2 separate regions of the Homo sapiens genome follow, and region 1 is linked to region 2. The links come from fine-mapping of genetic effects on gene expression. A gene starts in region 2. The other region holds a variant in brackets. All regions are shown on one strand. Distances are from middle to middle. Region 1 has its middle 7.6 kb from the start of MAPK3. Region 2 holds the start of CD2BP2-DT (CD2BP2 divergent transcript).

Region 1 (5,365 bases), 220 kb before region 2:
ACTTTCTTCTGAGTTGGTTCCATTCTTAGCCACCCCCTCCTCTCAGAGTAGCCAGATGGAAGCTAGTACTTGCAGATTCGTGTCTGGTTTTTTCAGTAACTCCAGCAAGGGAAAGCTCTTCTCTCTCTGTCTCTCTTTCTCCCTGTCTCTGTCTCTTGTAATGCAAGGCCTAGATTTGACTCTTATTGGTTACTAGTTTTTTTGAGACAGAGTCTCCCTCTGTCACCCAGGCTGGAGTGCAATGGTGCGATCTTGGTTCACTGCAACCTCCACCTTCTGGGTTCGAGAGATTTTCCTGTTTCAGCCTCCCGAGTAGCTGGGATTACAGGCGCCCGCCACCACGCCCGGCTAATTTTTGTATTTTTAGTAGAGACGGGGTTTGGCCATGTGGGCCATGCTGGTCTCAAATTCCTGGCCTCAAGCGATCCACTCACCTCAGCCTCTGAAAGTGCTTTGATAACAGGCATGAGCCACCGTGCCTGGCCAGTTACTAGTTTTGTTTGAAGCCTGTGCAAATCCTTCAACCTGAATCAGTGTGGAATTGGGGGTTTAGTTATCTCTACTGGCATGACATAAAGTAGGCTAGGGAAGGGATGGTTTTCCCAAGGAAAATTCGGGCACCATCCCCAGAAAGTGCTGAGCAGACAGTTACAGCAGTGTCTATTATAATATATATATTTTTAATTCCTCCCCCCACCTTTTTTTTTTTGAGGCAAGGTCTCGCTCTGTCCCCCAGGCTGGAGTGCAGTGGCACCATCATGGCTCACTGTAGACTCGACCACCCAGGCTCAGGCAGTTCTCTAGCTTCAGCCTCCCAAGTAGCTAGAACTACAGGCACACAACACCATGTCCAGCTAATTTTTGTATGTATATATATATATATATATATTTTTTTTTTTTGTAGAGATGGGGTTTTGGCATGTTGCCCAGGCTGGTCTCAAGCTCCTGGGCTTGAGACCAGTCCTCCCCACCAGCCTCCCAAAGTGCTGGGATTACAGGTGTGAGCCACTGCTCCTGGCCTAATTCCTCTCATTAACTACCAAATGAAGTCCACCACCCCTGGCTAATTTTAAAAAATTATTTAGGAGATAGGGGTCTCTCCATGTTGCTCAGGCTGGTCTCGAACTCCTGGCCTCAAGCAATCCTCTTGTTTCACCCTCCCAAGTAGCTGGGATTATAGATGCAAGCCACCATGTTCAGTTTAGATTGTACAATTTCTTTTCTTTTTTTCTTTTCTTTTTTTTTTTTGTTTGAGATGGAGTTTTGTTCTTGTTGCACAGGCTGGAGTGCAATGGCACGATCTTAGCTTATGGCAACCTCTGGCTCCCGGGTTCAAGTAATTCTCCTGCTTCAGCCTCCCGAGTAGCTGGGATTACAGGTATGCACCACCACGCCCGGCTAATTTTTTGTATTTTGTTTTAGTAGAGACGGGGTTTCTTCACGTTGGTCAGGCTGTTCTTGAACTCCCGACCTCAGCTGATCCTCCCGCTTCAGCCTCCCAAAGTGCTGGGATTACAGGCGTGAGCCACTGCGCCCGGCTAGATCGTACAATATCTTGAAGGCCATTATGCTGGTGTCTTCCCTTTGAAGCCCTCTTATATTTTGTTGGTGCAAAAGTAATTATGGGGTGGGCATGGTGGCTCACACCCATAATCCCAGCACTTTGGGAGGCCAAAGAGGGGTGGATTACTTGAAGTCAGGAGTTCAAGACCAGTCTTACCAATGTGGTGAAACCCTGTCTCTACTAAAAATACAAAATTAGCTGGGAAGACTAGTTTCCTAGACGGGGTTTCACCATGTTGTCCAGGCCGATCTCGAACTCCTGACCTTGTGATCCGCCCACCTCAGCCTCCCAAAGTGCTGGGATTACAGCCAGCCACCGCGAGCCACCGCGCCTGGCCTTATTTTTTATTTTATCTTTTTTAGAGACAGGATCTTGTTCTGTCACCTAGGCTGGAGTGCAGTGGCCTGATCATAGCTCACTGCAGCCTCGAACTCTTGGGTTTAAGTGATCCTCCCACCTCAGCCTCCTGAGTAGCTAGGACTACAGGCACACATACACCACCCCTGGTGGTGTGTGCCTGTAGTCCCAAACCAGTCTGAAAAGATAGATGTGGGGGCCAGGCGCAGTGGTGATGCGCGTCTGTAGTCCCAGCTACAGGACTGAGGCAGGAGAATTCCTTGAGCCTAGGATTTTTGTTTTGTTTTGTTTTTTTGAGACAGAATCTCGCTCTGTCGCCCAGGCTGGAGTGCAGTGGTAAGATCTCTCAGCTCACTGCAAGCTCCACCTCCCAGGTTCACGCTATTCTCCTGCCTCAGTCTCCCGAGTAGCTGGGATTACAGACGCCTGCCACCACGCCCGGCTAATGTTTTGTATTTGTAGTAGAGACGGGGTTTCACCGTGTTAGCCAGGATGGTCTCGGTCTCCTGACCTCATGATCCGCCTGCTTTGGCCTCCCAAAGTGCTGGTATTACAGGCGTGAGCCACCGCGCCTGGCATGAGCCTAGGAGTTCAAGGCTGCAGTGAGCTGTGATTGTGCCACTGCACTTCAGCCTGAGCGATAGAGCAAGACCTACAAAAAACAAACAAAACCCAAAACAGAATCACATGTAACACACAGCTGTGGACTGATTGGTTGACAAAAGTGTGGTGATCAGAGGCTGGCAGGAACTTCACCATGTATTTCCGCTAGAAGCAATGTTCAGTATTCTCTAATTCATTGTTTGTGGTGACTTTGGGGAATATAACCACCACAGAGACAAGAATCAACTTTGAATGTGTCATCCCACCACCTGCTGGCTTCCGTTGTTTCTGATGAGAAATCAACTGTCAATCTCATTGGAGTTTCCTTGTACGCGATGAGTTGTTTTTCTCTTGCTGCTGCCAAGAGTCTCTTTTTGTCTT[G/A]TTTGTTTATTTATTTATTTATCTAATTTATTTATTTTGAGATGGAGTTTCACTTTTGTTGCCCAGGCTGAGTGCAATGGCACAATCTCAACTCACTGCAACCTCTGCCTCCCGGGTTCAAGCAATTCTCCTGCCTCAGCCTCCTGAGTAGCCAGGACTACAGGTGTGCGCCACCATGCCCAGCTAATATTTGTATTTTTTTTTTTAAATTTTTTGAGATGGAGTCTCACTCTGTCCCCCAGGCTAGAGTGCAGTGGCGTGATCGTGGCTCACTGCAAACTCTGCTTCCCTGGTTCAAGCGATTCTCCTGCCTCAGTAGCTAGGATTACAGGCACATGCCACCACACCTGGCTAATTTTTTATTTTTAGTAGAGGCAGGGTTTCACCATGTTGGCCAGGCTGGTCACGAACTCCTGACCTCAGGTGATCCATCCACCTTGGCCTCCCAAAGTGCTGGGATTACAGGTGTGAACCGCTGTGCCCAGCCTAATTTTTGTATTTTTGGTAGAGTGGAGTTTCACTATGTTGGCCAGGCTGGTCTCGAACTCCTGACCTCAGGTGATCCACCTGCCTCGGCCTCCCAAGGGTTGGGATTACAGGTGTGAGCCACCATGCCTGGCCCTTGGGGTCTCTTTTTTTATGAACTGTCTGTCCCACTGGGCAAAGCCTCTGAGACCCTATTTTGGACACTGGTGGAGCAGTAGCCTCTGGTTTTCGTGGCTTGCCCCTCCTGGCATGGGATCTCTGTTCCACAAGCAAGCTGGGAGGAGTGTGATTATGGTCCCAGTATTCTTGGACTGTCACTGATGGTACAGCCTTCATTCTATGGTGTGGGCGAGTGCTGGGTGGAGGAGAAGAGTGCCCTACTTCTTTACCACGTTCACCAGAAATGTAGCCTCTTCAATTTGGAGTTGGAGGGGATGAAAACTGGTGGCAGCATGCTCCTCCTGGTGAGATATGGTAAGCCTTGATTGGCAGCTGAGGGGAGAGGGAGCTTGTCTTCTTGGCCACATCTACTCAGAGAGCAGTTTCCTTCCAGCTGAACTGTGGGGGGAGGGCAGTCAGGAGATAGTTGGTCCTCCTGGCTTAAATGCCACAGATGGCCTGGCACAGTGGCTCATAATGTTACAGGTAGTTAAACAGGCATGAGCAGGGCTGGAGAGGGCTCTTCCCCACCCACCAGGAATGTCAAGTGATGGTTCAACAATGATCACATTGCCTCTCTAAATAATTTGGCAGCCAGCGCCAGAGAGAGAGACAAGCTCCTGATGGTCCACAGCTGTTATGTTAGAGTGTTAATTGAATGCAGACACCAGGGAGAAGCAATTTCCTGGACATGTGCATTAAGAGACAAAATAGTCTGGGCACGGTGGCTCACACCTGTAATCCCAGCAATTTGGGAGACTGAGGCGAGCGGATCACCTGAGGTCAGGAGTTCAAGACCAGTCTGGCCAATGTGGTGAAACCCCCATCTCTACTAAAAATACAAAATTAGCCAAGCGTGGTGTTGGGTGCCTGATATCCCACCTACTCAGGAGACTGAAGGAGGAGAATTGCTTGAACCCAGGAGGTGGAGGTTGCAGTGAGCTGAGATCAGGCCACTACACTCCAGCCTGGGAAACAAGAGTGAAACTGTCTCAAAAAAAAAACAAACAAACAAAAAAGAAAGAGACAAAATGATGGAGCATGACCTTCCGGGGTCAGACCACCGGAAAAGGGAAGAAAACCTCAGATAGGCATGCATACAACTTCCTACACACACTGTGCATGCTCACCTTCCCAGGGTAAGGAGGCCACTGTGCATGCAGGCAGCCCATCCTAAGGGAAGAATCATGGGAAAGGAGCCAGCCTATAAAGTCCTAGGATCAAGGTTGAACACCACGCTTGACCTTGGTGCCCACTTGAGTCTCTTCCAAATGTACTTACCTTTCTTTCCCATTCTAAAGCCATTTAAAATAAACTTCCACTCCTGCTCTGAAACTTCCCTTGGTCTCTTTTTCTGCCTTATGCCCTGTGGTTCTTTCTTCTGTGGAGGCAAGAATTGAGGTTGCTGCAGACCCGTACAGATTTGTCACCGGTAACTTGGATAACCTTTCACCGATAACAATGCTTATAATCCCAGCACTTTGGGAGGCCGAGGTGGCAGGATAGCTTGAGCCCAGGAATTTGAGACCAGCTTGTGCAACATAGTGAAACCCCATCTCTACAAAATAATAATAATAAAAGTAATAAAATTCAATGCCACAGATTCTCCCTGTTCTTACTGAGTTTTAGTAGATTTTCTTGAATAAGAAAGTGAGCCAAGATTGCACCACTGCACTCCAGCCTGGGCAACAGAGCAAGACTCCATCTCAATAAAAAATAAAATTAAATGTTTATTCATCTGTTATATGACATTAGGATAATTCCAGAAACTTTAAGTGTTTATTTATTTTTAAATGGTTTTCACCAGCTTTGCTT
Region 2 (5,365 bases):
AACATCCACTTCTGGGGCTCTGTCCTCTGGTGGCTACAAGGATAAAGAATCTGAGGTCCTGAAAGCCAAAGACCTAAGAGGAATCGAACAAGAAACCTGGGAGAGGAGCACAGAGCAGCGCAGTTGGGGGTGTTTACACGGCAAGCAGAGTCCAGGCAGGGAGGCCACAGGATACCTGACAGGCACCTCCAAGAAGGATCTTCATGGGAGTACTCAGGGACCAAGACAAGTCCAAAGGGACTGTGGAGAAGGCCCCTGGCTTCTGGCCATCAGCACAGCCAAGGCCCCAGTACACAACTAAAGGCTTTTATTGGGAAAGGGAAATTGACTGAAAAATGGCCTCCAATTTCCTCGCTGCCTGAGACACTTGGTGCCTCCTCCACAAAGTCCAGGAAAGAAGGGCCCACCAAACTGGGCCCCCAGCAGGCTCAGGTGTAGAGGTCAAAGTCAATGCGTTTGGAGTTGTAGAACTGACCACCAGGGGGGTCCAGCTTCCGGCAATAAACACCGTCCGGGAAGTAGCCTTCACTCACCCAGGTCTGCAAGGAGAGGGCAGAGCTGGGGAACAACTGACAGGAGTGGGGGAAGCAGGGACAAGGCAGGAGGAGGGAGAAAGCAGCTCACCTGCATCTGGGCGCTGGTGAAGGGCCCATACAGCTCGGCATCCCCCGTGTTCTCCCACTTATATTCCCACATCACATCCACCAGACCATCTCCCCGCGACTCTGCTTCTAAAATAACAGGCAAAGCCATTTGGCCTCCAGTGTCTCACTTCCTACCCACTGCCCCCTCCTCTGTCCTCCAAGCTCACCTCCTCTCTGGGTAGGGGTTGGGGTCTCCAGTTCCTCCTCCGCCAACTCCTCAGCGAACATGTCCAGGGAGGGTGGGGGTGTGGGATTGTGGGGTCCTAGGGTCTGACACCCCAAACCCTTCAGACGCATAGCCAACCGTTCCCTTGTTTCCTGGTACACACCAAGGTTGCCCCGGGCCACCATCTGGTCGGCCAACCCGGAGAGCCGGTCCAGGCGCTGAGGGGAACTGGGTTGCCCAGGCCCCTTTCTCCCTTTGCCTCCTCCTCGGGCCCCCAGACGCCTCAGTGCCCCAGCCACTGTCTCTCTAGGCAATAGGAGCTCCAAAAGTCCCTCCAAGAGGGCTTGGGCACTCATTGAGGTCTGGCCCAAGCTGTCCTCCTCCTCCGAGTCTGAGGCCTGGCGCTGGCCAGGTGGCCGCTCCCGGATCTTCACCTGTAATGGGAAGATGGAGTGATTTCCCACCAACTGCCACGGGAGCAGGCCCAGCATCTGCCACTCCCAGGCCCCAGCCACGCCAGCCCCTGGGCCGCACCCAGTCAATGTTGTCCAGCCAGCTGTCTCGGATCTGAGCATCCCGGTTCAGGAAGTAGTTGCCATCGGCATCAAAGTGGCCTTCCTCCATCTCCTCCTGCAGGTTAAAGGGTGTGATCCGAACACCCCCCTCGCTGGGGAGTGTGGCTGCCTCCTGACCTGCACCAAAGACACAGGTGCCCTTTTCCAGGCATGGAAAAAAGAGACCGGAGCCTCCCTCGCTCCACACCACCAGAGGCCCCTACTTGTTTTTCCAGCAGAGTGTATTCTTGGGTACAGCTTACCTTCTACATCCTCTGAGGCCAAGATGTCATATTTGCTGGACCCCCCATCATCATCATCCTCCTCCTCATCGCTATCCAAAGAGTGTTTGCCTTTAAAGCGGCTCCCAGGACCCCCTGACCCAGCCACAGGGTCCACCAGCTGTGAGCAGGAGCCAGAAAGTTGAGAAATGCAGGTTACTGGCTACCTCCCCAAATACTTCCGGATCTGGACCCAAATATTCCCCAAATATTTCAGGATCTCGACTACTTCCCCAAATATTTCAGGAGCCACACTAAAGACGCTCCCAACCCATTCCTCAGAGAACCTGAAAAAACTAGGCTTTTCTCTGCCTGCCCGCCCCGCCCCTCTCCCGCCAGCTTTCTTCCTCTTCAGGCTTCTAGCTCCTCTTTCCCCCACACAAAGCAGTCTGGCCCCCTCACCTTCTTCTTGGGGACAATGATTTCATCCTCATCCTCCTCATCTCCCACGCCTTGGAAGGTCACTTTCCTCTTTGGCATGACGGGGCAAAGAGGTGTTTCTCAAGCTGAGGAAAGGATGCAGAGGAAGGGAACCGGGTGAGGAGGGGACTCGCCAACAGACGCAGCACAGCAAACATTTTTCCTGGTCTGTGACAGGTACAGTTTGGGAGCGGAGGGAGCACAAAAGCAGGGGCCGAAAGGAAGCTGGCAGCCAGGAGGCCTCCAGGACTTGGGTCTAGCATCCGCGAGTTAAACGGGGCGGGGACGGAGGAGCGGACCCTCTGGATCCCCCGACCCTGGCTGAAAGGAGACAGGCTTCACCACGTGACCGCCCCCAACTCCAGCCCCCGCAGTCTGCGCGCCACCGGCTCCACGGGCTGACCCCCGCTCTCTACCCTGGCTCTCTCGGAGCTCGCCGGGCCCCGGCAGACCCAGGACCTGGCGCTCTCGCCACCCCGTTCCTCCCTGCTCCGAACTCCCAATTCCGTGTGGTGAGCCCCAACTGTCCCGGGCTGTGTACAACTTAGAGGGCCACGGGGATTCGGGCGGTCCCACCCTCGCGCACTCACCTGGGAATCCGCGGAAGGCGAGGTGGAAAAAAGAAGAGATGCTTGCGCCAGGGCTACATCCGGGGCACCCGGCCGCCATCACCCGGAAGAGGACTGCGGAAGGCGCCCGGGAAGCCCGGAAGTGGCTTCACTCGGGTTAGGGAACTAACTGGAAGAGCGGGCGGAAGTATGCGATAAGCGAGCGAAGACGCCTCCACCCTCTCTCCCGCCAGAAGTGACGTCAGTCACGTGGGAGGACAATGGTGAGAAGAGGGAACCTAAGAATTCCTGGACTCTGACTGGGCGTGAGAAATGGCCGGAAGTAGCTTCGAGTCCGTCATTCAAGCAGTAGAGGCTCTGGAGAAAAACTGGAGCGCATCTGCTTAAAGGGCCGCCCAGGGTCAGGATGGAGGGGCAAAGTCCGAGCAGGGTCAGTGGGTTGCTGCTCCGTTTTCCTGTCCTGGGTTCAAGTCACCCTTCCCCCAGGGCTAAGGGCTCAGCGCCCCTACCGTCTCGTTAGAAATCCTGCCTTCCCATTCCTATGGTCCAGTGGTCAGCCCTCCTAGCCTGAGAGGTGCAGCCTTGCCTCTCCGAGGGGAAGCCTGACTCTCCCGATGGCCAGCCTGGGGCCCCTGGACGGCTCTCCGGGCACTTTCTGAACACACCTCCCTTTAGGACCCAGGGGAAATAATTTGTCCCACGCCCATACCCTGGGCGAGTTCCTGGTTTCTGAGGTGGGAGAGCCATCACTGGAGAGGTGGCATTGGCGCCAGTACTCAGGCCAGAAGCCCCTTGTGCCCTGCTCTCAGGTAGGCCTGGAAAAGGGCAACAGTGCCTCTCTGCAGCATGAAGCCCCCCTGAGCAAACAGGGCCTAGCAACTCCTGCCCAGGTAGCGGAATGTGGCCCAAGCAGAAGGGGGAATTGGGGAGGTAGCGGGGATCAGCCCCTGTGCTGGGACCCCTAGCTCTTGACACTCGGAGCCTGCATCCCCCTAAGCCAAGACTGTGCGCAGGCAGCACGTGCTGAAGCCAGACGAGGACAGCATGAGAGTTCCCCTACTCTTCCCCCAGGCAACTAGATGGGCCACTTCTCTCTCCCTAGGGGTTTCCTCCCATATTGGATCACGATGAAAACTGCACAGAAAGTCCGTGCTCAGTTTCTTCCATGGTTACAGAACACAGGCCCCAGACCAGGAAGGCATTCTGCTAAAGAAGGGGACCCGAAACCTCAGCTACCAGCGCCGATGGTTCATCCTCCGAGGAAACCTCCTCTTCTACCTAGAACACTAGACCGACCATGCACCCCTGAGCCTCATCCTGTTAGAGAACTGCCAGGTGGAACCACACCTTAAGGCTGCAGAACCCTATGCCTTTACCATCCTGACCCCTGGGGTGGAGGGCACAGGTGGGCGGGCCTACAAGCTGGCTGCAGAAACCCAGGAAGAGCTGGAGACTTGGCTGTGGGCACTGGCTGGCGCGAGCTGGAGGCGGCTGGCTGGGCTGCTGTCCCCCCTCCCCCCCCACCAAAACCCAATACTGGGAGCTGTGCCAGGCAACTGGCCAAGAACCCATCTCATCCCCAGAGGACAGTGGCTTTCTAGCCACTGTGAGTACCCCCTCCAGCTTCCAGGAGTTGCATGAGCACTTTGGGAAGGAGATCCGGGTGCTGCACGTGGTACATAGAGAGCTCCAGGCAGCCAGTGACAATGGAGACAGCAGATCCCAGGCAAAGATGGAGCAGGAGCTCAACCAGTGTCTGATGAGTGACTGAGAGATGGACCCAAAGCTAAGAGGTACCTACTTGCCAAGACAGCAGACTGCTTCAACAGAGACCCAGGTCCTGGCTCTGTCCCTCCCTCCCTCGTCCTTACCCCATCCCCCCCTCATCAAATAACAAGGCAGAAAACAGGCCCAGGTACAACAGCAGGTTCTTTTCCAATTCCTCAAAGCGCTGCATGGGGTGGGGGCAGAGACAGAAGAGAATGTAAACATTGGGTTCCACCCCCTGGAGCTCAAGGGAAGACCCTTACCCAGATAGGGACTAACTGGAGGGGTGGAAGGGAACAAGGTGAAAGGTATGGGTCCTGGTGAGACAAAAGCAGGGGGGCCTGAGAACACAGAGCAAGGTGGGTTTGGAGGGAGCACAGCAGGGTGCAGGAAGGGAGATGGGGGACATTTCCTATTCCAGTGCATGTCCCCTTAAATAAACTGGGTACAGGAGCATTATGGAAGGAGAACCAAAGGACAGAAGACAAAGCGAGCACCCCCACCCCAGGCCAACGCCATCCTCTGTACACAATTACAACACAGGTCCAGAATGAGAGCCCTGGCCAGGAAGTGGGGGAGACAGGGAGGGCTGAAGACAGGGAAAAGGAAGCCAGCTCCACCTCATGGTAAGGGGAGCTATGGAGTGTAAGAATCTGAAACTGCTGACTCCCATCACCAGGAGTCACCCCTGGGATGACAACGGGCCATTCAGGACAGCACCTAGGAGGGGACCCAGAGGGAACTGGGGCAGGAGCGACAGAGACCCCAGCTGAGCCTCATGGGAGATGAGAGGCTCCAGACTCATTTGCAGCTGCCCATCTGTCCTGCCCGTGTAGGGATCAGCAGCTGGCGAGGAGATGGGGAACCAAGCCACTTTCCCCAGCAAGGGACAGCCTGACAAGGTGCTAGGGGGTGGCACCTTGGGCCAGGCCTGTTCTTGGCTGAGGGAAAGAGGGGGGCCATG

Evidence for each region. PIP is the estimated chance that this variant, and not a neighbour inherited with it, causes the effect.
Region 1: its variant is fine-mapped to the expression of CD2BP2-DT in whole blood (INTERVAL, PIP 0.94).

What each region holds. Positions count from the first base shown.
Region 1 is chr16:30,128,170-30,133,534 of GRCh38, forward strand. No RefSeq gene overlaps it. Among named protein-coding and RNA genes, the nearest start is that of MAPK3, 7.6 kb to the left of the region's middle. The variant G/A (reference allele first, on the strand shown) is at 2,906.
Region 2 is chr16:30,352,557-30,357,921 of GRCh38, forward strand. It overlaps CD2BP2-DT (CD2BP2 divergent transcript), which reads left to right and starts at 2,878. Exons shown (of 2, transcript NR_184233.1): 1 at 2,878-3,064; 2 at 3,737-5,365. CD2BP2 (CD2 cytoplasmic tail binding protein 2) reads right to left here and starts at 2,752. Exons shown (of 7, transcript NM_006110.3): 1 at 2,656-2,752; 2 at 2,048-2,151; 3 at 1,628-1,766; 4 at 1,345-1,502; 5 at 812-1,244; 6 at 625-731; 7 at 1-539. The coding sequence starts at 2,125. The coding sequence ends at 429. It overlaps TBC1D10B (TBC1 domain family member 10B), which reads right to left. Exons shown (of 9, transcript NM_015527.4): 9 at 4,546-5,365. RefSeq lists enhancers at 1,766-2,717, 1,802-3,001, 2,692-2,986, 2,718-3,669, 2,724-2,783 and 1 more.